Linked DNA regions of Homo sapiens. The protein of the gene in region 3 purifies or fractionates together with the protein of the main gene of each other region. This does not show direct contact. Each region holds a gene or a part of one and is shown on either strand. Other genes may lie near its edges.

Evidence for each region.
Region 1: the proteins of SLC35D2 (region 3) and TUBA8 purify together in Homo sapiens (affinity purification with mass spectrometry; one large-scale study listed by BioGRID and IntAct). This does not show direct contact.
Region 2: the proteins of SLC35D2 (region 3) and TRABD purify together in Homo sapiens (affinity purification with mass spectrometry; one large-scale study listed by BioGRID and IntAct). This does not show direct contact.
Region 4: the proteins of SLC35D2 (region 3) and ROR1 purify together in Homo sapiens (affinity purification with mass spectrometry; one large-scale study listed by BioGRID and IntAct). This does not show direct contact.
Region 5: the proteins of SLC35D2 (region 3) and ALG1 purify together in Homo sapiens (affinity purification with mass spectrometry; one large-scale study listed by BioGRID and IntAct). This does not show direct contact.
Region 6: the proteins of SLC35D2 (region 3) and NPEPPS purify together in Homo sapiens (affinity purification with mass spectrometry; one large-scale study listed by BioGRID and IntAct). This does not show direct contact.
Region 7: the proteins of SLC35D2 (region 3) and TM9SF3 purify together in Homo sapiens (affinity purification with mass spectrometry; one large-scale study listed by BioGRID and IntAct). This does not show direct contact.

The regions. Positions count from the first base shown.
Region 1 is NC_000022.11:18,117,309-18,120,808, forward strand, and holds part of TUBA8 (tubulin alpha-8 chain), read left to right. Parts: intron 1-3,500.
Region 2 is NC_000022.11:50,192,413-50,195,912, reverse strand, and holds part of TRABD (traB domain-containing protein), read right to left. Parts: intron 2,887-3,500; 5' UTR 2,853-2,886; coding exon 2,820-2,852; intron 2,338-2,819; coding exon 2,259-2,337; intron 1,574-2,258; coding exon 1,407-1,573; intron 1,014-1,406; coding exon 873-1,013; intron 1-872.
Region 3 is NC_000009.12:96,363,212-96,366,711, reverse strand, and holds part of SLC35D2 (nucleotide sugar transporter SLC35D2), read left to right. Parts: intron 1-2,161; coding exon 2,162-2,248; intron 2,249-3,500. UniProt on the Homo sapiens protein: Nucleotide sugar antiporter transporting UDP-N-acetylglucosamine (UDP-GlcNAc) and UDP-glucose (UDP-Glc) from the cytosol into the lumen of the Golgi in exchange of UMP.
Region 4 is NC_000001.11:64,179,008-64,181,998, reverse strand, and holds the end of ROR1 (inactive tyrosine-protein kinase transmembrane receptor ROR1 isoform 1 precursor), read right to left. Parts: 3' UTR 501-2,991; downstream 1-500. UniProt on the Homo sapiens protein: Has very low kinase activity in vitro and is unlikely to function as a tyrosine kinase in vivo. Receptor for ligand WNT5A which activate downstream NFkB signaling pathway and may result in the inhibition of WNT3A-mediated signaling.
Region 5 is NC_000016.10:5,070,515-5,074,642, reverse strand, and holds the start of ALG1 (chitobiosyldiphosphodolichol beta-mannosyltransferase), read right to left. Parts: upstream 2,801-4,128; 5' UTR 2,794-2,800; coding exon 2,586-2,793; intron 2,396-2,585; exon of another isoform or gene 2,340-2,395; intron 1,693-2,339; coding exon 1,615-1,692; intron 1,491-1,614; coding exon 1,387-1,490; intron 1-1,386. UniProt on the Homo sapiens protein: Mannosyltransferase that operates in the biosynthetic pathway of dolichol-linked oligosaccharides, the glycan precursors employed in protein asparagine (N)-glycosylation.
Region 6 is NC_000017.11:47,586,608-47,590,107, reverse strand, and holds part of NPEPPS (puromycin-sensitive aminopeptidase), read right to left. Parts: intron 2,879-3,500; coding exon 2,764-2,878; intron 1-2,763. UniProt on the Homo sapiens protein: Aminopeptidase with broad substrate specificity for several peptides. Involved in proteolytic events essential for cell growth and viability. May act as regulator of neuropeptide activity.
Region 7 is NC_000010.11:96,577,013-96,580,512, forward strand, and holds part of TM9SF3 (transmembrane 9 superfamily member 3 precursor), read right to left. Parts: intron 1-3,500.

The DNA.
Region 1 (3,500 bases), on a different chromosome or scaffold from region 3:
ATTTTTATGAATACGCTGAACAAAGCAAATCAGTTTATTTGTCCCCCAAATATTTTGATTTGTTCAAACAAGAATTCAGTCAGAGTCCCCATGATGCGTGTGGTGGTGCTTGGTGGTGCCTTAGTTCCTTTGACATGGGACAGCCCCTCCCAGCTCTTCATTTCTCATGAGTTGAAAAGGCTGGGCCAGGCCCGATGGCTCACGCCTGTAATCCCAGCACTTTGGGAGGCTGAGGCAGGTGGATCACGAGGTCAGGAGATCGAGACCATCCTGGCTAACATGGTGAAACCCTGTCTGTACTAAAAGAATACAAAAAATTAGCCGGGTGTGGTGGCGAGCGCCCGTAGTCCCAGCTACCTGGGAGGCTGAGGCAGGAGAATGGTGTGAACCCGGCAGGCGGAGCTTGCAGTGAGCCGAGATCGCACCACTGCACTCCAGTCTGGGCGTCAGAGTGAGACTCCGTCTCAAAAAAAAAAAAAAAAAAAGAAAGTAAATAAAAAAAATTAAGAAAAAAAAAGGCTGGACCAGCTGCCCTGTAGGATGTCTCACCTTCTGGATTGATTTTGTTTTCTCTGATATCACTGAACTTAATTAACCCTCTGATCCCTGTGTTTCCTGTGAAGTGGAAACTGAATCTACAGGGCTCAGTGATGAGGGCTGAGTATTTTTGAGAAGAAGTCCTCACTGGTGGTGTGTGTGTCACATTGCGTCCCATCAGGAGGTCCTCGATGTCGGGTTGGCCCACAGTTAGCGATGCTGAGATTGATCGCGGCCTTAGGCTGGCGACCCTGGTAGTTACGTCCCCCCTTGTGACTATAACAGTGGTTCTTTGGCTCTCGGCGAAGATCCAGTTCCCCATCAGTCTTTCACCTAATGGTGTTGGCGTTCTTGTCCAAATCAATCACGTAATTAGAAGATGGAATAGGGCAATATTTGATAATCTATTATTCGGTCCACATTGCTTAGCAGACATTCTTCAATTAAAGAAAAAAGAGCCTTCTCTAACTAACGGGGCTGTCTGGATAGGGACAAATGAGTTTTTCTCTGGGGGTTTTCTTTGAGGACTTGTGGGTTTTCATCTTGCATCCTGCTTCACTCAAATGCTGCCATCAGTACTTGTGAGGCTCAGGTTGTCTCATCTTAGGCAGCAGGAGCCTCTTCAGGTGCTTGGGCAGCCCCTTGGTTAGCCTCCGTGCCTCCAGGCGCTATGCGACATTCCAGGCTCATCTAGCACACTCCCCACCCTGGACCTGGACGCCTCCGTCTCTCCAAGGAGCCCAGTTCCTGTTAGCAGGGATCTTCCTTCTCTCTTGATTGGTGTAGCTACTTTTCACTTTTGAGAGCACCTATGAATCTGTCAGTCATTTCTGAGTCTATTTTATGCCTCCAATTATTCTTATGAGCTAGTTCAATAGGAAAAATAGCTCTTTCTAAGGGGTGTGTGTGTTTGCACGACGGGGGCGGGGGAGAGAGAAAGAGACAGACATTTTGTAAAAGACTGGCATATGTATTAGTGTGAGATTAATGAGGGCATTAAAAGAGGCTAAAGACGTTGTCACCATGCTAGTGGTTTTCAGGTCCCCCAAATCCTTGACTCTTCCTCCCATGATCTTCGATTTTCCCAAAATATCCCTGCGTCCTCCCTGGAAAGCCCCAGAATGTTCCAGAAGTGAGAGCAGGCTGGGGGCCGGGCAGCACTGTAGGCAGGACTAGAGGGTGGTCGGGATGCGGTGGTGGTGAGGGGGCGACAGACCCAGAAGGCTGAGGGTTAGGACCACAGAGGACACTGTCACTTAGAAGGAAAATACATAGGATCAGGCCCCCCTCGGGCCTCTCCAGTGTCCCCTCAGCTTCCACACCTCCCTGGGAAGTCACAGCCACATGCTGAATGTGACGCCGTGGTCTGGGTGGATAACTCGCTGGTTGTGGGTGGTTTCTGGATGCAGATGCTGCTTTCCTTAGGCCTGAATTGAGCCCTCAGATGGAGGCAGAGAATAGACCCCACAATAAAGGAGAGAGGAGCAGGGACCTGAGAGCTCCCTCTACGTGTGCTACTTCCCGGTGCAGAAAAATGCTACCAGGTAGTACCGTAATGAAAATGATAATGGCAAGACAGCATCAACAACTGTGGCTAACTTACACTTTTCAGATGAGGAGAGGCTCAGTAACTCAGCCCAGGCCACACAGCACAGCAAGTAAATTGAGAAGGCAACATGGGAACCTGGGGCCGTGGGCAGCTCTGTGGGTGAATCCCCTCCCTAGCCACCAGGCTCACGGAGATCCAGCGGGTTGCGACCCCCGTCGGGCTGCCCCACGCTCACCCCTGTGCTCATCCTCCCTCAAGGCAAGGACCAGGTGTCGCTCAGCTGTAGCACAGAGACAGGACTAGAGTGGGGGCACAGTTGTAAAATTGAACTAGGGGGCAATGGTCCTGATGCTCTGACCCCGCAAGATGCTACTCAGGGCAGCTGCCCTGCTCTCCATGCCCAGAATTTCTTCCACGTCTCCAGGAGCCCCACACTTTGACGTGGACTCTACTGGCTTCTGTGCCCAGCCGTGCCCTCTGGAGGCTCTGCCCCTGGCTTGGGTTACCCGGAGCTGGAAAATGCCAGGGCAGGTCATGGGTAAAAATAGAAACCCACAGACCTGGCACATGCTTCCTGCTGGGCTCAGGCGGCTGCCCCAGGCACAGTGTCGCCTTGTGTGGGCCACTGCTTCCCCAGGGCAGGGTGTGGGTGGGAGGATGAGTCTATCACGCCTACGTGTGCACGTGCACACACACACACACACACTGTCTCTCTCCCCACCCCCCTTTTTCTTTAATAATTTCAACTTTTATTTTAGATTCAGGGAGTACATATGCAGATTTCTTACATGGGTATATATTGTGATGCCAAGGTTTGGGGTACGATTAATCCTGTCACCCAGGTAATGAGCATAGTACCCAATAGTTAGTTTTCCAATCTTTGCCCGCTTCTTCCCTCCCCGCTCCAGTAGTGCCCAGTGTCTACTCTTGCCATTTTTCTGTCCATGAGTACCCATGTTTAGCTCCCACTTATAAGAACATGTGGTATTTGGTTTTCTATTCCTGCATTAATTTGCTTAGGATAATGACCTCCAGCTGCATCCATGTTGCTGCAAAGGATATGGGTTCATTCTTTTTTGGGGGCTGCGTAGTATTCCATGGTGTATATGAATGACATTTTCTGTATCCAGTCTACCATTGCTGGGCACCTGGTTGATTCCGTGTCTTTGCTGTTGTGAATAGTGCTGTGATGAACGTGTGAGTGCAGGTGTCTTTTTGGTAGGATGATTTTCTTTTGGATATATACCCAGTAACAGGATTGCTGAGTGAAATGGTAGTTCTGAGTTCTTTGAGAAATCTCCAAACTGCTTTCCACAGTGGCTGAACCAATTTACATTCCCATCAGTGCACTCCCCATCTTAAGCTGTTAGTACGAATACCAATCAGGCAATTGTGGCTTCACATCAGCTTTACT
Region 2 (3,500 bases), on a different chromosome or scaffold from region 3:
GGAGAAATTAAAAAATGAAAGGCAGGCGCCAAACGTTTAGGGACATTTCTATAAGATCTCATTATAATTGTTTCCTTTGAACAGGGGGAAGGCAAACTGACCAGGGCTGGGGTCAGGCGTGCTGGGCCCCCTTTGAAAACACAAAGCCTGGCCGGGCGCGGTGGCTCATGCCTGTATTCCCAGCACTTTGGGAGGCTGAGGTGGGTGGATTGCCTGAGCTCAGGAGTTTGAGATGAACCTGGGCAACATGGTGAAACCCCGTCTCTACTAAAAATACAAAAAATTAGCCAGGTGTGGTGGCAGGCACCTGTAATCCCAGCTACTCAGGAGGCTGAGGCGGGAGCATCACTAGAACCCAGGAGGCGAAGGTTGCAGTGAGCCAAGATCGCACCACTGCACTCCAGCCTGGGCAACAGAGCGAGACTCTGTCTCAAAAAAAAAAAACAAAAACCGAAAACACAAAGAGCAATGAGAAAGTCCTGCCTCTCCGGTCACTGCAAGGCTGGAGAAGTGGGGACAGGAGGAGCCCTGAGCCCCACCCACTTTGGGCCTGGGTGTGGTACCGGGGGGGCCAACCTTGCACTGAGACCTGACCCATCCCCAGCAACTGCTCAGCAACCCAGTCCTCGGGTGACCAGCCCCTGCCTCAGCTTGGAGAGCCACCCATTTCCTCCTCCCTTGCCTGAAACCGGGTAATGGAGCCTCTTTCATTTCTCCTGGCCCAGGGGAGGTCCCTAACCCGGCAATCCCCAGGGCAGGCCAGGCACAGCCACACTGACTGGGGGCATGGGCTGTGAGAGGAACCTGGGCAACAGGCAAACAGGTGGCTTTGACCCCGACCCTGACCCTGACCCTTGCCCGCGGCTGCGCACCTGCCTCACGGCCTGCTGCAGCTTCTCCAGGCTGAGCTCCTGGGCCTCCCGCAGCAGCGTGCTCTCGTCCATCTTCAGCATGGACACACGATATTGGCAGAGCTCCACGACCACCACGTCAGGCTGCACCTCCCGGATGGTCTGCAACAGCCACAGGTCACACCTCGAGAACACAGCCGCTCCCTGCCCCTCAGCACAGCTGACGCCAGCACCAGGGGCCCCATCCCAGGAGCAGCCAGCCTTGGCGTCACCCCAGGGCTAGCTAACCCCGCTGCTGCAGTGACAGCTCAATTCTCTAAGCGACGAGAGAGGAAGCTGTGAGGCTTGTTCACTTGTTAAGTGGGAAAACGCACAAGGCCGTCACGGCTCCCAGGCAGGAAGCCCACCTTGCCACTCCCAGGGACCACAGTGTTGAAGCAGGAGGCCTGCGGTGCGCACACACGGGCACACGGGCCCTGCCGGGAGGTCCCTGAGTGCAGGACACAGGAGCTTACACCAACCCGTGTCCGGGATGTGGCGGGTGGCGGCGCTCACCTTCACAACGTCCCTCTTGCTGTCGTCGCTGAAGTGGGCTGTCCCCACCACGTACACCCTGCTCCCGTCCTCAGCCACCAACTGGGTCACAGTGCGCGGCAGGTTGGGCCGCTGACGCCGCCGCTTCAGCTTCATCTCCAGGAGCAGGTTGAAGGCGTCCACGTCGGCTGCAACAGCAGCACAGGCCGTTGTGGTGCCGGGCCCACCCCAAGGACGCCGCCGGGCCCGCTGGCAGCCTGGGCTCTAGAACCCTCCTGGGTTCTGAGAACTGAACAGGTGCAGAGCACAAGACTCCTGACGAGCGTCACACTCCACAGGCTTTGCCTGCCCAGTGATGGGAACACCGGCTACCACCTCTGTGAGCTGCACGGCTTCGAGAAGCCAGGGCCTCAGGAGTCCTGTGCCCCATACACCCCATGAGGGCGACCTTGGGGGTTGCTGTGGATGAGGTTCGGTGTGGGGGACAGTGGGGGCAGGTGCCGCAGGGGGCTCAGCTAGGGGAGGGGCTCTGAGGCGAAATGGGCCCCCCCACCCCACTCAGGAGGGACAGGCTGAGGCCACAGCAAGGAGGGACTCCCGTGCCGCTCACACTGCTTGTGCTCACGAGCCCCCCATGCCCAGGGGCCTGCCTGTGCTGCTTGCAGCCCCTCCAAGAGGCTCCACTGCCAGGCAGGGCCCAGGAGCAGCTGCTGTTGGGTGGCACCAGGCCTAGCAGCACCTACCTCAGGTCTCGGCCAGGGCCCCTGCTCACCACAAGCTCCAAGCCCCTGGCAGTGGTTGGCTGCCTCCCCCTCCTCCCTGACTCAACAGCCCAACACCGGGGAACGTGCCAGGACCCTGAGGGACACGTACACAGGTTCTGGGGGTCTCCAGAAAGCACCCTGGGCACCGGCTCTGAAGCCTCTGACGGCACAACAGGTTCCACGTTGGCCTGCAGGTGGAAAGGAGAGTTCAAGTCAGGGTCCATGCACCCCAGAAAGCCAGGGCTCCGTGGCAACTCCACGGACCACGTACCCTGGAAAGGGACCCGTGGCCGCTGTGTGGACCACACACCCTGAAAAACGAGGGCCCGTGACCGCTCCACGGACCACGTACCCGGGAAAGGGACCCGTGGCCGCTCTGTGTACCACACACCCTGAAAAGCAGGGCCTCCGTAGAGCCTAGGCCCCACACTGTCAGTACCCCTCCTGCTTGGCCATCACTGGCACGGCTGCCATCAAGCTGGGCAGACAGGGCCACCAGGCCACCTCAGCCCAGCGCCCCTCTCCCTCGGAGGTGCCTCCTGCCTGACCCTGGAGAACCCTGTGAAGATCACCTTTGCAGAACAACAGCCAGGGACCGACCCCGAGAGCCCACAAAGCGGGGAAGCCCCCCGCCCCTGTCTCTGTGCAGCCAGCCCAGCCTCCACCTCACCTCGTGCGGTGGCTGCTGCTCCTCCCCGTCCATGGCTGGGCGGCGGCTTCCTGCACCTGTGGGGAGCCTGAGGAGAGGCATGAGAGGCGGGGTTTCCACCTGGAGCCCCAGACCTGGCTCAGGACTCACTGCGTAGTGCCCTGTCAGTCTAGAACCATCTGTTGGGTGGGCCTGGGGGCTCCTTCCCCCATATCCCCAAATGCCTCCTGCCCATCAAAGGCTGCTGAGGTCCAGGGTCGGTTCAGGTCAGGCCCGGGTGGGGAAAGGCCAGCAGGTCCCCAGACACCCCAGCATAAACCAAACGCAGACGGGCCCAGGGCGGGTTGCTGGTGCACAGGCCTCACTCAGAACAGGGCCAGAGCTGCCCAACCCTCACTGCGGCACGGCGGGCACACATAGGAAGGCAGCCCTGGGGTCCACACATGATCTCAGGACACAGCAACGCAGCTGCTGACACATGGCAAGGACCCCAGGGCCTTTGTACAAAAGCCACTTCCCCTTTCAGTAACTACAGCCTGGGCAACAACACCGGCACAGAGTCAGTACAGACGGAGGAATCCACAAAGCACACAAATCAACGTGTTTGGACCTAAGACCTTCTCTCCCACTTTAAGAGACAAACATGGTGTGGAAGGAACCACGGTAGAAACCCGGACAGGCTGGGGCAGCCACACGAGGGGG
Region 3 (3,500 bases):
TTGAAGTCAGTAGTTTGAGACCAGCCTGGACAACATGGTGAAACTCAGTCTCTACTAAAAATACAAAAATTAGTCAGAAATTGCTTGAACATTCACTGGGAGGCAGAGGTTGCAGTGAGCCGAGATTGCACCACTGCTCTCTAGCCTGGGTGACAAGCAAGACTCCGTCTCAAAAAAAAAAAAAAAAAAAAAAATCAGTGATAAGGTGTCCTTTGTAGTCTCTAAGTGAAATAAATTCATTACTCTTTAACCCAGTGGCTTATACTCAAAGGTAAAGCCTTTCTGATTTGCAATTTGTTGAGGGAAGAGGCCAGTTAGATCTAATTTTAAAAGTCTGAATTACATTTAAGTGTTAGTATATTTATTTTATTTTATTTTTATTTTCTTCCTTCCTTCCTTTTTTTTTTTTTTTTCCAGTGTCTGGCTCTCTTGCCCATTCTGGAGTACAGTGGTGTGATCTTGGTTCACTGTACCCTTCACCTCCTGGGCTCAAGTGATCCTCCTGCCTCAGCCTTTCAAGTAGCTGGGACTACAGGCATGCACCACCACACTGACTAATTTTTGTATTTTTTGTAGAGATAGGGTTTCGCCATGATGCCCAGGCTGGTCTTGAACTTCTGGGCTCAAGCGATCTGCCCACCTTGGCCTCCAAAGTGTTGGGATTATGGGCGTGAGCCACTGCGCCTGGCCAATGTTATTGTATTTCTTTAAGAATTATAATGTGAGGCGTAAGTACAAAGTACAGTTATAATTCAGGATGGGCTTAATTACATAAATATATTATAAGTTTTAAGTTTGTAAACTCAGGAGCAAGGTATAGGATTATAATCGTGTTGAAGGAGTCTTAAATTTTCACATCCTAAAATGGAGAGAATTGAGTAAGTTCTAAAACTTGCATGAAAGATGACATTAAATTTTTATTTCATAATAATGATATGGAGTATTTCCAGTATACCTAGGGTACTCCAGATTAAGAGGATTTGAAGGAGACATTTTTGCTATACCAGCTAGATTGAAAAGTAAATCTTTAAAAGTAAAGTTTAAAGAACTTTTTTTCCTCTTTGTTGGTCTTCTGTTTTATGGAAATAATGGACTTTTTAAAAAATGTGCTTAGGTGTGGAGTTTCTTTTAAAAGAATGTTCCCGTGCCTTTATGGGGGAGGATGCCATATGCTTAGTATATGGGAAATATGGTCCAGGATCATTGTGTCATCTCACTGGCTGTGATCACTTTTGCACATTTGTCACTGTCAGGGAGACCATTCCCTTTCTCCCTCTGCCACAGTTCATTCCTAGAGCCCCGTGAGATAATGTGTGTGTGTGTCTATTGGATATTACACTTTTTTTTTTTTTTGAGATAGAGTCTTGCTCTGTCTCCCAAGCTGGAGTGCAGTGGCATGATCATAGTTCACTGGGCTCACTGCAGCCTTGACTTTCCGGGCTCAGGTGGTCCTCCTACCTCGGTATCCCGAATAGCTGGGACCACAGATCACCAAGACTGGCTAATTTTTTGTATTTTTTTGTAGAGATGGGTTTTCACCATGTTGCTTAGGCTGGTCTGGAGCTCCTAGGCTCAAGTGATCTTCCCACCTCAGCTTCCCAAAATGCTGGGATTACAGGCATGAGCCACGGCACCCAGCTGATATTACCTTTTTTTTTTTTTTTTTTTTTTGAGACAGTGGTGTCTCACTCTGGAGGGCAGTGGTGTGATCTTGGCTCACTGCAACCTTGGCCTCTCAGGTTCAAGCGATTCTCCTGCCTCAGCCTCCTGAGTAGCTGGGATTCTGCGTCTGCCACCATGCCCAGCTAATTTTTGTTTTTTAGTAAAGACAGGATTTCACCATGTTGGCCTGGCTGGTCTTGAGCTCCTGACCTCAAGTAATCCACCCATCTTGGCCTCCCAAAGTGCTGTGATTATAGCTGTGAGCCACCGTGCCCTGCCCGACGTTACGTTTTTTGCCTGGAGTTCTGATGGAATCTGTACTGTGGCAAGGAAAACAATGTTAATATTCTAAGAAATAGTTATTTTTTTCTGGAACCTAGAAAATGAATTTTTTGCTATATTTCTTTTTGATGAATGTGTTTTCTTTTGATGATGTCATTGTACCTCAAGCAATCTTTGCAGATATTTTGCTGAAGTTTCTCTCTCCCCTTTTCTTCAGATGGCAGCCACCATAATGATACTATATGTGTCCAAGCTAAACAAAATCATTCACTTCCCTGATTTTGATAAGAAAATTCCTGTAAAGGTAAGTAATGAAAAGTATGTATGACTGTGATAGAAGATGTGAAAATACACATTGATTTTAGAGTACAGGTCAATTTCTATACACACTGTACTTCCTGCCTGCACTGGATAGAAACTTCTTTTTTTGTTTGAGATGGACTGTCGCTCTGTCGCCCAGGCTGGAGTGCAATGGTGTGATCTTGGCTCACTGCAATCTCCGCCTCCTGGGTTCAAGTGATTCTCGTGCCTCAGCCTCCCTAGTAGCTGGGATTACAGGTGCCTGCCACCATTCCCAGCTAATTTTTTTTGTTTTGTTTTGTTTTTGTATTTTTAGTAGAGATGGGGTTTCACCATGTTGGTGAGGCTGGTCTCGAACTCCTGACCTCAAGTGATCCACCCACCTTAGCCTCCCAAAGTGCTCGGATTACAGGTGTGAGCCACTGTGCCTGGCCAAGAAACTTTAATAAAGACTGTATATCATTTAGTTGTCCATTTATGTAATGCAGTAAGTAGTAGTAAAAGTATGTGCTTAACAACTGACATCAAATAAATGAATACTGTGTGTCTTGGGAAGTGAGAGAACTCTAAATTAGGCATTGGCAAACTTTTTTGGTAAAGGGTCAGACCATCTCTTGTAATTATTCACCTCTGCCACTGTACCATGAAAGTAGCCCTTGATGACATTTAAATGGGTTGATGTCCATGTGTTCCAATAAAACTTTATTTACATAAACAAGAGCTGGGCTGGATTTGAGCTCTAGTTTACTGATTTCTGTTTTCAGTTTTCATTTTTATCCTGGACTGACAAAAGCTGTGAGTGGAATGAAGAATGCAATTTGATATACATAGAAATACGCAGTTTTTTCCGTCCTGGAACTAGAAACATAAAATCTGCCATTCCTTCGTGGACTGTGGAATGGAACTAACGTTTGTTGAACAGTTGCTGGGTTCCAGACATTAGGGCAGGCATTTAATTCTTAGACCAGTCCCATACAACAGGTGGTATTTATGGATTATGACAGCATTTAGGTTTAAATCAGACTGTCAGTTCCCTGAGGGTGAGGATCTCATGTGGCTGGTTTGCTGCTGTTTCTCTAGTGCTTGGAAAAATGCCAGCATCTAGCACTGGATTATTTATCAGACAGACCAAAGAAGCACATGCTTACAGCATCAGTAATCAGGGGAGCCCAGTGTGGTGGCTCACGCCTATAATCCCAGTGACTCGGGGAGATCAAGGCAGGAGGATCGTCTGAGGCCAGGAGTTGGAGGTCAGT
Region 4 (2,991 bases), on a different chromosome or scaffold from region 3:
GAACTCTTTCTTTTGGGCAAATAAGGTCATAAAGATAAGTTGTGACAATTAAATGGCCCCATTTATTTTATCAGTATGTTTGGAAGCTAAGTTGGGCATGATAAGATGTACACAGCCTCTTCTTCTTTAGAGTCCAAAGAGGTGACTTTTGATATCTAAGATTATATGGAAATATTAAGGCAGAAAATGATGCAACTATATTCTTAAAATCAAATATTTTTTATATTCCATTGGTTGTAACTATTCAATATATTATTTTGATTTTAAAAATTCAAAGCTTGCCATATATAGGTGGATAGTATTCAGTTATGAAATCATTAGGATTCCCCTCTCCACCTATGGTTGCTAGCAAAATAATGCCCAAGTCTGTTTTAAAAGCCTACTGAAAAAAAAAAATTTAATGAAATAACAGCAAATAGGAATTGTGATTCCTCTTTCTATAAAATGTAAATGTTAAAATCCCCAAATACCTCTATGACAGCAATATTCAGGAAATAATATTTTATAGTAAACATTTTTAATAAACAGCAGCATAAAATAATCAGTGTTTAATATCATCTCTGGTGTGTGAAATACAAATGCATATATCCTTAATATAAAATAGCCTTTTTGTCATTACAATTCAATGCTTGCCTATTTGAAATGCCCATAATAACAAATCAAACATTAAGTAATACAGTGATTAAATGCATGCAGTGAAAATAAGGAAAGATATGGTAAGGTGAGATATCTGAAAATTGCCATTATATATTTGAAGAAAATCTATATCAAGTTAAAAACAAAGGAAACAAGAAAAACAGACCAGATATAAAAATGCAAAGATATATTTTCACTTCTGTGACACAAACCATAAGCATAGTTTTGTGCAAAAAAGGAGAAAAAGATCTGAAAATAAAGTCATCTTACAAAACATTGTCAACAAAGGAAAAGATATTTTTCAGCTTGTGAAAAAAATACTATTTTAATACAAAAGAGACTGTGTTATATAGTATCACAGTGCGATTATAAAATACATTATTACAAGTGGTTTTGAAATTTCATTTGCTCACTTTAATGTTTTCAGTTATTATAAAATGTTTAAAATAAATGTTATAGTTCTTTATAAAAAACTAACTTGAATTTACTTTTTAACCATAATAATGTTTTACCAGAGTAGGTATTTTACTGGCTCATGGAATGCTAATTTCCCTTTAAGGGACTCCTAGAAAAACTCAAGATTCACTGAAATTGTGTACTTAAAATAATAAATATTCTTGGAAAACAATTGATTGTCATATGATATACAAAATTGTGGTTTGAAGCTTCATCATTAAACAGTTGCATAGCAACAAAAGGATACAAATATTCTCCTCTACCTAAAGTTAAGAAATGTAACTTCTGAATCAGCTTATTTATGCCACAAAAATATGTTTTAATTTATCTCCCAGAAATCTGGATATAACCAATTCTTCTAGTTCACAGTACCTATAAGTTCATGTTTGTTATTTGAAGACTCAGGTTTGGGAAAATTGCAATGCATTTTGGTAAACATATTTTCTTGATTTCTCATGCTAGTTGTATTTTTTAAAAATGAAAACATCAATGTGTTTTTCATTCTCTTACATTCTCCTCATCAAATATCATTTCCAGGAATTACTTTTATATCCCGTAAGTCTCTTTAGAAGTCTCTTATACCTTTAAAGTAAAAATGAGACTTTGAGACATTGTTCTTAGAATAAAGGAGTTTTTTTTTAACAAGAGAAAAATCAAAAGTAAAATTACTTTCTATATAGAACTTGAAACGCATAAGAATTCTAAACTTGGCAAAAGATGGTCGGCAGGTAAATGCCATGAGCTGCACATTTGAAACCTCCCACTAAGGCAAAAATGGTCATGTTACTTCGGTTTGCTAGTTTAAAGAATTCAGTTCTTGGTAACTTTTGAAATGAGAACTCAGTACTTGTTTTTTAGGAAGACCATCATATTTTGCAAAATAGAATTAATTGCCTTTGGATTCCAACTGACTGTATGAATACATTGTTGTAATTCTTGGGGCGGGAATCAAATCTGTGAACATTTCCAGCACAGAAAAAAAGGGAAAGAAACTTTAAAATTACTAGACATTTGTATCATGATGGAGTTTCCTACTTCCCTAGAGCCCATTGACCATAAGCACTCCAATGCCTCGGACAACTTGTAAACAGGGAGTTGCAAGGGGTGGGCGTGCTCATCTGTAGCCACACACTTATTTTTCAGTGTTACTGGTTCCAGAAAACTCCTATGGGGGCTGTCCCCATGGGAACCCTTTTTCCTTTCCCACAGATGCTGATCTAGGCTGTGGGGCCATTTTCCTGGCTGTGCTTCCTTTGGCGCCTCATTCCTAATCCAGCAAAGAGAACTATCAACCAACAATCAATTCTAGCATCCACATCTAGCCTTCTTATGGTCTGATGCGCTGTGTTATTCCAAGGGCAGTGTAAACACACTGTGAGAAACTGTGGGAAAGACCCTCATGATCAGAGGAGGATTCACAAAAAGGCACACTCTACACCTTCCCAAAGAAGCACAACGACATAAAAGGCTTCAGGGCTTGTTATACTTCCCTTATGGCTCATTTCCCTCCAGGGTTTCAAATTTGGCCTGAAGTTTCTTCATGGATTCTGAACATCATTTCCATAAGAACATGCACAGAGTCTAAATTCAATCAATATAATTCCTGAACATCTGTCCTGAAGAAAAGACAGCAGGTAGACAAATGCTATGGTATATATACATCTGGGGGAGAGACCAGTCATGGTGACTGAAGGCTAAAACACAAAGCACCATTTGACTTTTGGTTTTATATTTAATCACAAGGTTCTTTTCCTCTTCACTGGTTTGCAGCTTTCAGTGCTCGAAACCACATGTTCCAATCCCAATGCCATGTCATGCACTCCAATGGAGTGCACATCCCACAATGTTTTTGTTTGCTTGTTTTTTTTTTTTTTTTTTTTTTCTGGCCGAGTGTCTGTC
Region 5 (4,128 bases), on a different chromosome or scaffold from region 3:
TGCTGGGAAGTTACCCTAAGAAAGAAACTGGACTTATACAAAAGGCATATGCTCGCTGTGCTTGGAGCCACACTATTTGTAAAAGTAAAAACAAAATCAGGAAGAATCTGAGTATCCATTAACATGAGACTAAATACATGCAGTATAGTACATCACATATTGGAATTCAAGGCTGCCTATTAAAAGAGGAAGGTGTGGGTCACGATGGTTCATGCCTGTAATCCCAGCAATCTGGGAGGCCGAGGCAGGTGGATCACCTGAGGTCAGGAGTTCAAGACCATCCTGGCCAGCATAGCGAAACCCCATCTCTACTAAAAAAAATTACAAAAATTAGCCAGGCATGGTGGCACATGCCTGTAATCCCAGCTACTCAGGAGGCTGAGGCAGGAAAATCACTTGAACACGGGAGGTAGAAGGTGCAGTGAGCCAAGATCGCACCACTGCACTCCAGCCTGAGCAACAGAGACTCCATCTCAGGAAAAATAAAAATAAATAAATAAAAGAGGAAGGTGCTTCTATATATTAAAAATTGATTTAAAAAAAAAAGTATTCTTCCTTCAGCTAGAAAAGAAAGAAAAATTTTTTAAAGAAAAAGTGATCAAGGGAAGGGATTAAAAGTATAACGATAGGCCAGGCGCGGTGGCGCACGCCTGTAATCCCAGCACTTTGGGACGCCGAGGGGGGCGGATTACCTGAGGTCAGGAGTTCGAGAACAGCCTGGCCAACATGGCGTAACCCCATTTCTACTAAAAATACAAAAATTAGCTGGGCGTGGTGGCGGGCACCTGTAATCCCAGCTACTCAGGAGGCTGAGGCAGGAGAATCACTTGAACCCGGCAGGCAGAGGTTGCAGTGAGCCGAGATCACGCCACTGCACTCCAGCCTGGGCGGCAAGAGCGAAACTCTGTCTCAAAAAAATATATGTGTGTTTGTGTGTGCGCGCGTATGCGTGCGTGTGTATACTATAGAACCACACTGACGACCTACGTTCAAATCCTGATTCCACCACTTCCTAGCTGTATGGCGATGGGCTACTTACAGAGCCTTTCTCAGTCTAGGTTTTCTCATCTAAATGAGAACAACCTTAAGAAACAGGTTCTTGTATTACCTACATGCAATATTTCTTAGGGTAACTGTGAGGACTAAATGAGTTAATACATGGAAAACACTTGATACACAGTCAGTACAATGTAAGACTATCTGTAATGACACAGAGAGCATGGATAGGTGCCATAAATAGACACATACCATAGGCTCCTACTCATGTCTTTAAACGCCCATACACACAACACACACACATATGAATATGCAATATAGTACCAATTTGTGCTGGAAAGTAAACTGCTAACATGGCTCTCACAGAGGGAGGCAGAGGCTGATACACACCTGGAGAAAGATATAGGCACCTGGCTCCCTCCACATCAACTTCCACAGCAAGTACATAGCCTGAAGTACAACTTTGACTCCGTACTGGAAAACTCGGGGCCCAACTGCAAGTCAGAAAACACCTGTGACTACCAAAGGAGCGTCTGGCAATCTGCACGGCTTTTCAAACGAACACCCCCTGCCCCCAGCCCATGGATTCAGAGGATTCTGGAGTTGACGGCATCCTACCTGCAAGACTCTGAAGTTCTGTCAACCCCACAATCTGAATTCTGTTGTTCTGCAAGAGCTCATCATGGGGTTTGGAGTCTGAAAAATGAGAATGATCCCTTTAATGTACCAGAAGCAGCAATCTAAAGTCAGATAATCTCCCAACTCAGGCTGAATCACGGACAGTGTTTTGGAAAGTAAGATATTTCAAAACCTCTCTCTGCTCCTCACTAGCCAGAACAGAGAATGCGGCCAATTCTTGTTCAGATTGCTCTAGGAGGCACACAGAGATAGGGCCTGAATCTTACCTACCTTCACTTAACATGATGCCTGGCAAACAGTAGGTGCTCAATTAAACTAATCTAGATTGTCTGGATAGTGGAATTTTCCCACCACAGAGCCATCCCTAGGAAGTCCCACTCTACCCCATCACCCTAGGATAGCAGATTCTAAACAGGGATTAAAGGCAACTAGTGCTGTTCCCACTTCTTCCTGAGATGGGGTTGAGCTACCCTCTCAAGATACCAACGTGGAGAATAATGAGGGAGCAGACACCGCTGCCCTGCACACTGTGGGGAAAAGCTGGACATGAAGAACAAATGAAAACATCTGTCTGCAGAGCTCTGCGTTGAGGGATGAGGAATGAAATATCCTGTCAGCTCAGACATAGCCTGACAAGGGTAGCTGCACAGGGACGTAGCTACCAGCACTAGCCCTGGAGTTCCACGCACCTGGGTTCCACTTACTAGGAGAATTACGTGAGACCACGCAATGGATTCACTTAACACACTTCTGACACGTGGCAAGATTAACGCCGGCTATACCTAGAGACCCACCCAGGAAAGGCTGGGGCAGAACCGCTCGTCTAATCTCGGAGAGCTGCCCAAAGGCGGCGACTAAAGGAGCACTTCCGCCTCGACTCCCCGGGGCGGTTAGAACCGAGGATCAACGGCTGAGAGAGCATCGTCCCTCCCAGACCCTTGGCCACTCACTGCAGAACCCCAGGAGGGTCACCGAGAAGCCGTGCATGGCCAACGACAGCGCGTGGTACTGCATACGGGGGCTGCGGCCCACGTCGCCCAGCACCACCGCTACTACATGCCGGGCCGCCCGCCCCCGGCGCCAGCGCTTCCATCCTCCCAGCAGCAGCAGCGGCAGCAGCAGACACAGCGCCAGCAGGACCAAGCATGAGGCCGCCATCTTGGCTGGCCCGCAGCAGTCACGTGACCGCGCTTCCTCGCGCTGTGCGCAGCCGCAGACCGAGCCTCCGAAGTGGGCCGAGAGGGCGAGAAGTGGACGCGGTTCCCTAACAGGGGCCCGGGGAACCCCCAGGAGCCCCTCGGGGCCAAGAATTAGTAGTAGTAGGACACACGCACATACACCAGATTCCCTACACACCAGTGTATTTCCCCGACTAAAGTAAAGCTGTTACTGTATTGGGATCTAAGAACTCTCTTCAGGATTCAAAGATAATTTCAAAATATAGTGACACAAGAATTTGGATAAATTTCATCCTAACATTGATAAAGGAGCCAGATGCTGACGAGTACGAATTGTAGAGTTCCGTCTATGTAAATAAAAACCAGTCCTCGCTGTTAGAAGTTAGGGGCTGGTGGGTTCTGCTTCTGGATCTGGTGCTGGTAATGTGGGTGTGCTGCATTTGGGGCGGTACCTCAAGCAGCAGATTACCTGCCCATTTTCCAGGGTGTACATCACACTTAATAAAACATTTAAAAGGTAGAGAGGGGGAAGGACAAACAAGGAAGTAAACACCATCATGATTTTGCTTAAGTATCAATGGCTAGAAAGGAAATTTCCACAGTGACCCTCCAATTTCACCTCCCAAAGTAGCCATAGTGAGAGTTTAATGTGTGTCTCTGCGATGGCCTGTATTAGTCCGTTTTCATGCTGCTGATAAAGACATACCCGAGACTGAGCACTTTACATAAGAAAGAGGTTTCATGGACTTACAGGTCCACATGGCTGGGAAGGCCTCACCATCATGGCAGAAGGCAAGGAGGAGCAAGTCACCTCTTACATAGATGGCAGCAGGCAAAAAGAGAGCTTCTGCAGGAAAACTCCTTTTTATAAAACAATCAGGTCTCGTGAGGCTTATTCACTATCACGAGAACGGCACGGGAAACACCTGACCCCATGATTCAGTTACCTCCCACTGGGTCCCTTCCACACAACACATGGGAATTCAAGATGAGATTTGGGTGGGGACACAGCCAAACCGTATCATGACCTTTTTTCTTTGAAAGCGGTCCCTTGCAGAGAAACACCAAGAGCTCACTGGTGATGCTACCCCATTGCCTCCACTTGGGAGCTGCCGCAGAACCTGGAGAGCCACCACCCAGACCGTATTCAACAAACAAACAAGACTCCTCCCCTGATGAGGACCACAGGCAGCACCCACGGGACAGGGTAGCCCACATGGATGTGGCTCCCCAGTGTCCCTGGGCTCAGCTCAGGGCTTGGCACACTTTGCATCTGCTTTTCACAATTGCCCCATCACTCCCTTTCTATGGATTC
Region 6 (3,500 bases), on a different chromosome or scaffold from region 3:
CCTCCCGCCTCAGCCTGCCAAAGTGCTGGGATTACACGCGTAAGCCAGTGCATTCAGTCCTAAGTAACTTTTTAAATACCAAAGGTAGAAAAGGAAGAAGAGGGAAAAAAAAAGCCCATATATGGAAAAGGAAAAGACAACAGATAAATATAGGCAAATAGAGGTGGAAAATATAATCATGTAGAATTTAGTATAGTAAAGGATTATCTCTGAAAAACAAAAACAGAAAACTATCAGAGCCAAATAAAGAAAAATGGAAATGACAGGGGAAAACCACTCACTAATGAGTTGAATGTTCAAGAGAAACTGAGAAAGAGTACTGCTTATATAAAAATTATGTGAAATTAAACAAAAATGCAGTTCAGTAATGAATGGTGTTTAAGCACTTATGGAATATAAAATTATCACCTGTTAAATAAGAATGCATAGTAAATGGAATGGACAAAGAATATGAGTGACAGATAAAATCAATTTTAAAAAAATTTGAAAGATCTTAATCTAAATTTTATTAAAGTTGATTAAGCCTATTAGTAAAAGAAAGCAGGCCAGGCACAATGGCTTGCTCCTGTAATGCCAATACTCTGGGAGGTCAAGGCAGGAAGATCACTTGAGCCCAGGAGTTTGAGATAAGCCTGGGCAACATAGTGAGACTCCATCTCTAAAAAAATTAAAAAGTAAAAAAAAATTAGCTGGTCATGGTGACACACACCTGTGGTCCCAGCTACTTGGGAGGCTGAGGCAAGAGGATTACATAAGCCCAGGAAGATGAAGCTGCACTGACCCATGATTGTGCCACTGCACTCCGGCTTGGGTGACAAAGTGAGATCCCATTCTCCATCCCCAACCAGTCCCCCCAGAAAAGGCCAGGTGTGGTAGCTCATGCCTGTAATCCCAGCACTTTGGGAGGCTGAGGTGGGAGGATTGCTTGAGCCCAGGAGTTTGAGACCAGTTTAGGCAACAAAGTGAAACCCTGTCTCTACAAAAGGCAATACAGTGAAACCTTGTCTCTACAAAAAGTGCAAAAATTAGCTGGGCATGGTGCCACACACCTGTAATTGCAGCTACTCAGGAGGCAGAGACAGGAGGATTGCTTGAGCCCAGAGGTAAAGACTGTAATGAACCATGATTGTGCCATTGCACTCCAGTTTAAGTGACAGAGTGAGACTCTGTCTTAAAAAAAAAATTATTTTGATATTAAGTGATAAGTGGCTATTTGCCTAGTAGCTTCCTAAAATAAACTAGCATAAAATGAAACTTATTTTCCAACCTATCCCTAAGCCCTTGGAATTTCAGTTCTAATAACTAGAATAGTTACATAAAACCAGTAAAAAGTTGTTTAATAAGAATGTACACATTTCCCCTACTAAAATTTATTGCTTGTTTCAAAATAAAATCATAAAGTTATCTCAAAACCAAGCAAAAAAATTATTTGGTACAAAGTAGCAAACTTGCTGCATTAGAAGAAAAGGCCATTTCTTCACATATTTGAATACAGGCACCAACACATAATTCCACATGAAATTATATTTCTTTTTTTTTTTTTGAGATGGAGTTTCGCTCTTGTTGCCCAGGCTGGAGTGCAGTGGCGTGATCTCGGCTCACTGCAACCTCTGCCTCCCAGGTTCAAGTGATTCTTCTGCCTCAACCTCCAGAGTAGCTAGGATTACAGGCGCACACCACCACGCCCAGCTAATTTTCTATTTTTTTTAGTGGAGATGGGGTTTCGCAACATTGGTCAGGGTGGTCTCAAACACGTGACCTCAAGTGATCCACCTGCCTCAGCCTCCCAAAGTGCTGGGATTACCGGCGTGAGCCACCGTGCCCGGCCTGAAATTATATTTCAAAGAATTTTTTTCACCTGTAAAATTTTAAACATCCAAAATAAAAGGAAAAGATTTATTTTCAAGGGTTGACTTTCTGTAGAAACTCTCTGAGACACGTAATAGTTGATAAATGTCTTACATTCTTATTTATATGACGTATGGACTCAATCTACATTCAAATCAGGTTCTGCTCTTTGGCAGCCTAAAATGTCAGGGAATCTAGCTGGCTCCAGAATATCCAGTTATTTAATTGCAGAGGTACATCTAGTTCACTTATTAAATCCTGTGCTCCCAAGCTCTAACACAGTTGGCATTCATAAATAGTATTTACTTAGAGTAAGAGTGAAAAATCAGGACTGAAGGACAGAGATCATTACTGCAAACATTATAAGGATTTCAACAGAACAGCTGGAATTTTAATACAGCTTTATTCTGCAGTCACTCTGCAGTTTGTTTACTTTTATTTCATTAAATTTCAACTTAACATTTTAGGCAATGAAAAAACTGACTCCTAAAAACATTTCTCTCTAATTAAAGATCAGTTTGTTATTCATCAGGTTACTTTTCAGCTGTGAATCAGATTAACAAATAAGATTCAAGAAACTACAGTTAGCCTGGAATCTCACTGCATGATTCATTCATCTACACCTAAGAGGAATGTTTTTCTCTCACCCAAATTAGTATCTTGACTTTTCCCACTTGCAGACAAATTTTAGAACAGTTTAGGAAGTGTCTGTTGAATAAAGACTGTCCATATGCCCTTGTTCAATGCAGAGATTCTGATAAGCCTTTTCAAAGTGGACCTTTTAAAATAATACTTTTCTATCACTCAATTATTTTTTGGCACAGTGTTGCAGCCAAACTTGAAATACTATGTAGCCAAAATAATGTGGAGTAGGATGAAGATAAATATATTTGAGCACTTAAAAATATTAAATACCATAGTAACAAGATTTCCAAACCATTGATGGGCGAGTTCATGTCCCACAACCAGAGCAACCCACTGGCGGGATGAAGAACAGGAATTTTTTGGATCAATAAGCAATGCAGTCTCCCTGTGTTTAAAAAAAAAAAAAAGAAACAAATTTAAACAATAAAAGTGGGCATGCATAAGTTGGGAAGATTCAGACAGTAAGTCAGATGGACAAGTTAGGCTTTAGAGATATTAGGAAAATATTTCCTAATATGGAAAGAAAAAGTTTCACGAAGATTAAAGACTACCCCAACAGAATTAATACAACAGAATATCAAAGATGTGACACAAGTTTAATTATCAGTTTGTTGATAGAATAGCTGCCTGAAATTTTGGGAAAACATTGTCTAAGGGATTAGCGATTACTGTGCTAGATGGAGAGAGAAGAAAGTCCTTCCATTAAATGAGGGGAGTGGTGGAGGAAGATGCATTCCATAGTCCCAAAAACAGCACTGAGCCGGCTGTCCAACACTTAGCTCATCTAAAAAGGCAATTGAAAGTAGAAGGCAAAAACTTGTTTACAGACAGACTCTGCTTTTAAAAGTTATTCAACTCACATGTTTATGTTGTGGTGACAGACATGTAAAAACTTGGCTAGAAGATATGAAATTAGGGAAGGTTCTCCAAGCTGGATAAATAGCTATGAAACTACTGCAATGAGAAACTTAGCCAAGAATATATCTAAAAATGCTACTACCGCCAGA
Region 7 (3,500 bases), on a different chromosome or scaffold from region 3:
AAAATTATATCCTCTGATTGTAGTCTCAGGCAGATACACCTTTTCCAAACTTGTTTTATAGAAGACAGTGTTTGAACTAAGCCCAATAGCTCATAAGAGTGTGTCTATTATTTACATTTACACTATCAAATAGTGGCAAACCTGCAACCAGCATGATTCACCATGCTAACATGGACAAGGAAGGAGGAAACAAAATCAAGTTTATCCAGAACCTCATGTTAATCAATTAAAAAAAAAAAAAAACCTAATGTTGCCAGCAAGCATAAATAAAATTTCATCTCCTTGCGAGACTTTCACACAGCCACTGGTCAAAGTACTACAGAGGACAAGGAAGAAGACTGCTATAGAACCTCCACAAGTCCATTCAAGCCAACATTCTATCTTGTTAGCAGCCTGAAAGACATGCACTATATGCATATTTCTTTGAATAAGTAATTATGGAACTACATATCAGTGAATATTATACATGGCTAAATCTGAAGTGTGGTCAGTAATGACTTTGAGTAGTTCCAAGGTACAAGTGGGAGGCCTGTCAAAGATTTCTAAGATCTCGACAAGTTTAAAGTTCCAATGATTCTATGGAAACTGATTACCATGGTAATTTTAAAACTAATAATTCTAAGTAGCAGTATAAATTAAAGACAACATTGGATGCATTTAAATCAACTAATAGTGCAGACATTAATTCACTGAACAATTATTTACTAAGTGCTTAGCATGTGAAACAACTGTGTTTATAACTGAGGATACAGCTTTGAACAAGATGTGTTCCCTGTCCTACTGGGGGAAGGATGGGCATTAAACAAGCAATAATAATAAGGTAGGTTGCTATGGGGCACATAATAGAAGAAGTGATCCAACTGGCCCACTATGAAATCCTTATCTCCAGTCCTCCATCTAAAACTAGTTAATAAATAAATATTTTCAATCAAAACCTAACATCTCCAAAACCAAACTCATCTACCCAAATCCACTTCCCCCAGCTTCATTTTTCTAATGGTACTACCATTCTCTCAGCCATGGAGACTCAAACCCCAAATCTCTCTGCACTCTAGGGAACCCAAAAACATTAACTTGTATGTTCTTACCAAAAACATCTGCCTTTTTCTTTTGATTCACACGATTATCACCCTAAGACTTAGACCCAGTCATTTCATTTTCAAACATAAATGCCTCACTGTTCATATAAGACAACAGCCAGGTCATTAAGGAAATAACAAATGATCTCACCTTTTGAACACATGTGACAGGTACCAAGTATCGCGTTAGGTATTAAGAATATAAAAGTAAGTAAAATACTGTCGTTTCCTTAAGAAGTTCATAATCCACAGTGGAATCAGACAAGTAAATGATTAACAAAGAAAAAATAAGTATTATAATTAAGGTAATAAAGGGCTATTGTAGCAACAATAAAGGAATGATTAAATTCACTTTGGCAGAGAAGGTCAGGACGAATAACAATTTGGAAAATCATAAGCTGTTTCAAGGGAGTTCAGAAAAACAACTGTAGATAATCTTCACATAGGAAGTAATGAATCAAAGGTCTAAATGTTAATGTAGCAGTATATCCCCATTCATTACTATTCTTTTTATTTGGGGAGACTGACAAATATATGTATGCCCCCACTCTTCCATCCAATGCTCATGGGCCACACAATACTAATCAACCAAGTTACTCCTTTCTGCTGAACATAGATATTGCCTCAGAGTTCTCAAAACAGTGCTCTAAACCAATCATTACCAACTGATGAGAGTTGGTATTAGAATTAAAACTTGTTCATGGCCGGGTACGGTGACTCACACCTGTAATCCCAAGACCTTGGGACGCCAAAGCAGGCGGATCACTTAAGGTTAGGAGTTTGAAATCAGCCTGGCCAACATGGTGAAACCCTGTCTCTACTTAAAATACAAATATTAGCAGGGTGTCGTGGCACACACCTTGTAATCCCAGCTACTTGGGAGGCTGAGGCAAGAGAATCACTTGAACCTGGGAGGTGGAGGTTGCAGTGAGCCTGAGATTGCGCCACTGCACTCCAGTCTGGGTAACAGGGCGAGACTCAGTCTCACAAGAAGAACCTATTCACCAAGGCAAATAGATATTTAATAAATATGATGGGAAAACACTGAAGAAATGCTGAAATGTAAAGTTCATTGGCAACTTGGTAAAAGAAGTTTGAAGTATGTGAAATGACTGCTATGTACCCTGACTGTAAGAGTACCTTTTCAGAAAAATAAGGGGAGGTAACATAATTCATCTATTTAAGAGCAGAATGTTGAATGAGACGACCTATTAAAGAGCACCTTGCCATTAACCCTGCTGAGTCTGCAGAAATGTTATAAATGTAACTTGTGAAAATAAGCACAAAAATACTTTTTCTATAAATTCCAATACTTTTCCTTTAAAAATAGACAACATTTTTGAAAATAAATACCTTTAAAAATAGGGCATCCATTTATTTTATACAAATTAAAACATAAGGACTAAAATAATTTAAGGGTCCCAGTCGATGTTAAACCACATATTCCGAAGTTACTCATTTTAAACATTCAGGAATCCTTAACAGAGTGGTAGAGTTGTGATGTGATGCCCGTACTGTAATAAAATTTATATCATTTTGTAGTCTAAGATTCTTTCTGGGAAGAGGACTGAAACAGTAATTAGAAATACACATACTGAGAGTTTAGGGTGAATAGCAAGGCAAAAATAATGCTTTTTTCTTTTGTTTTGCTCCTTACTATGCAGACTGTGGTTTAATACAATTAACTTAAAATGTTTACTTTTCATTGCAGACCTTGATTGTCCCTGAGAATAAGTGCTTCCAAGACAAGATCAAGAGTTCTCTCTCAAAAGAAAATGTTTTAAAATATTTTGAAATTAAAAAATACCAAAAGACTTCACACAACTTCTGAAGGAGAAAACAAAACAAACAAAAATCTTTCCTTTCCCTAAAGCTTTGATAAAGCCCCTGAGCTCCACAGTCTGTGGGAAGAGAGTGCTAGGCCCAGAAGAAGGTGGGGTGGAGTCACAGAAGCACAGCAGTGTATCAGGGGATCCCTAAGCACGATAATAATCCCTTTCATCTGAGGCTTCCCTGGGAAACGGCCAAGTGAGAGGAGGCCAATTCAGGCTACCGGCATTCTTCACCTACTTATTTTCCAGCTCTCAGAAGAATCTCACTGCTACACTTACGTCATCCACGCTGGCCAAAACGGTTTATGATATTGTCTTCCTCCCCTTTTCTGCTTCATCTTTGTGTGTGTGTGTGTGTGTGAGACGGAGTCTTGCTCTGTCGCCCAGGCTGCAGTGCAGTGGTGCAATCTCGGCTCACTGAAAGCTCCGCCTCCCAGGTTCACGCCATTCTCCCGCCTCAGCCTCCTGAGTAACTAGGACTACAGGCGCCCACCACCACACCCGGCTAATTTTTTGTATTTTTTAGTAGAGACGGGGTTTCACCATGTTAGCCAGGACGGTCTCGATCTCCTGACCTCGTGATCCACCC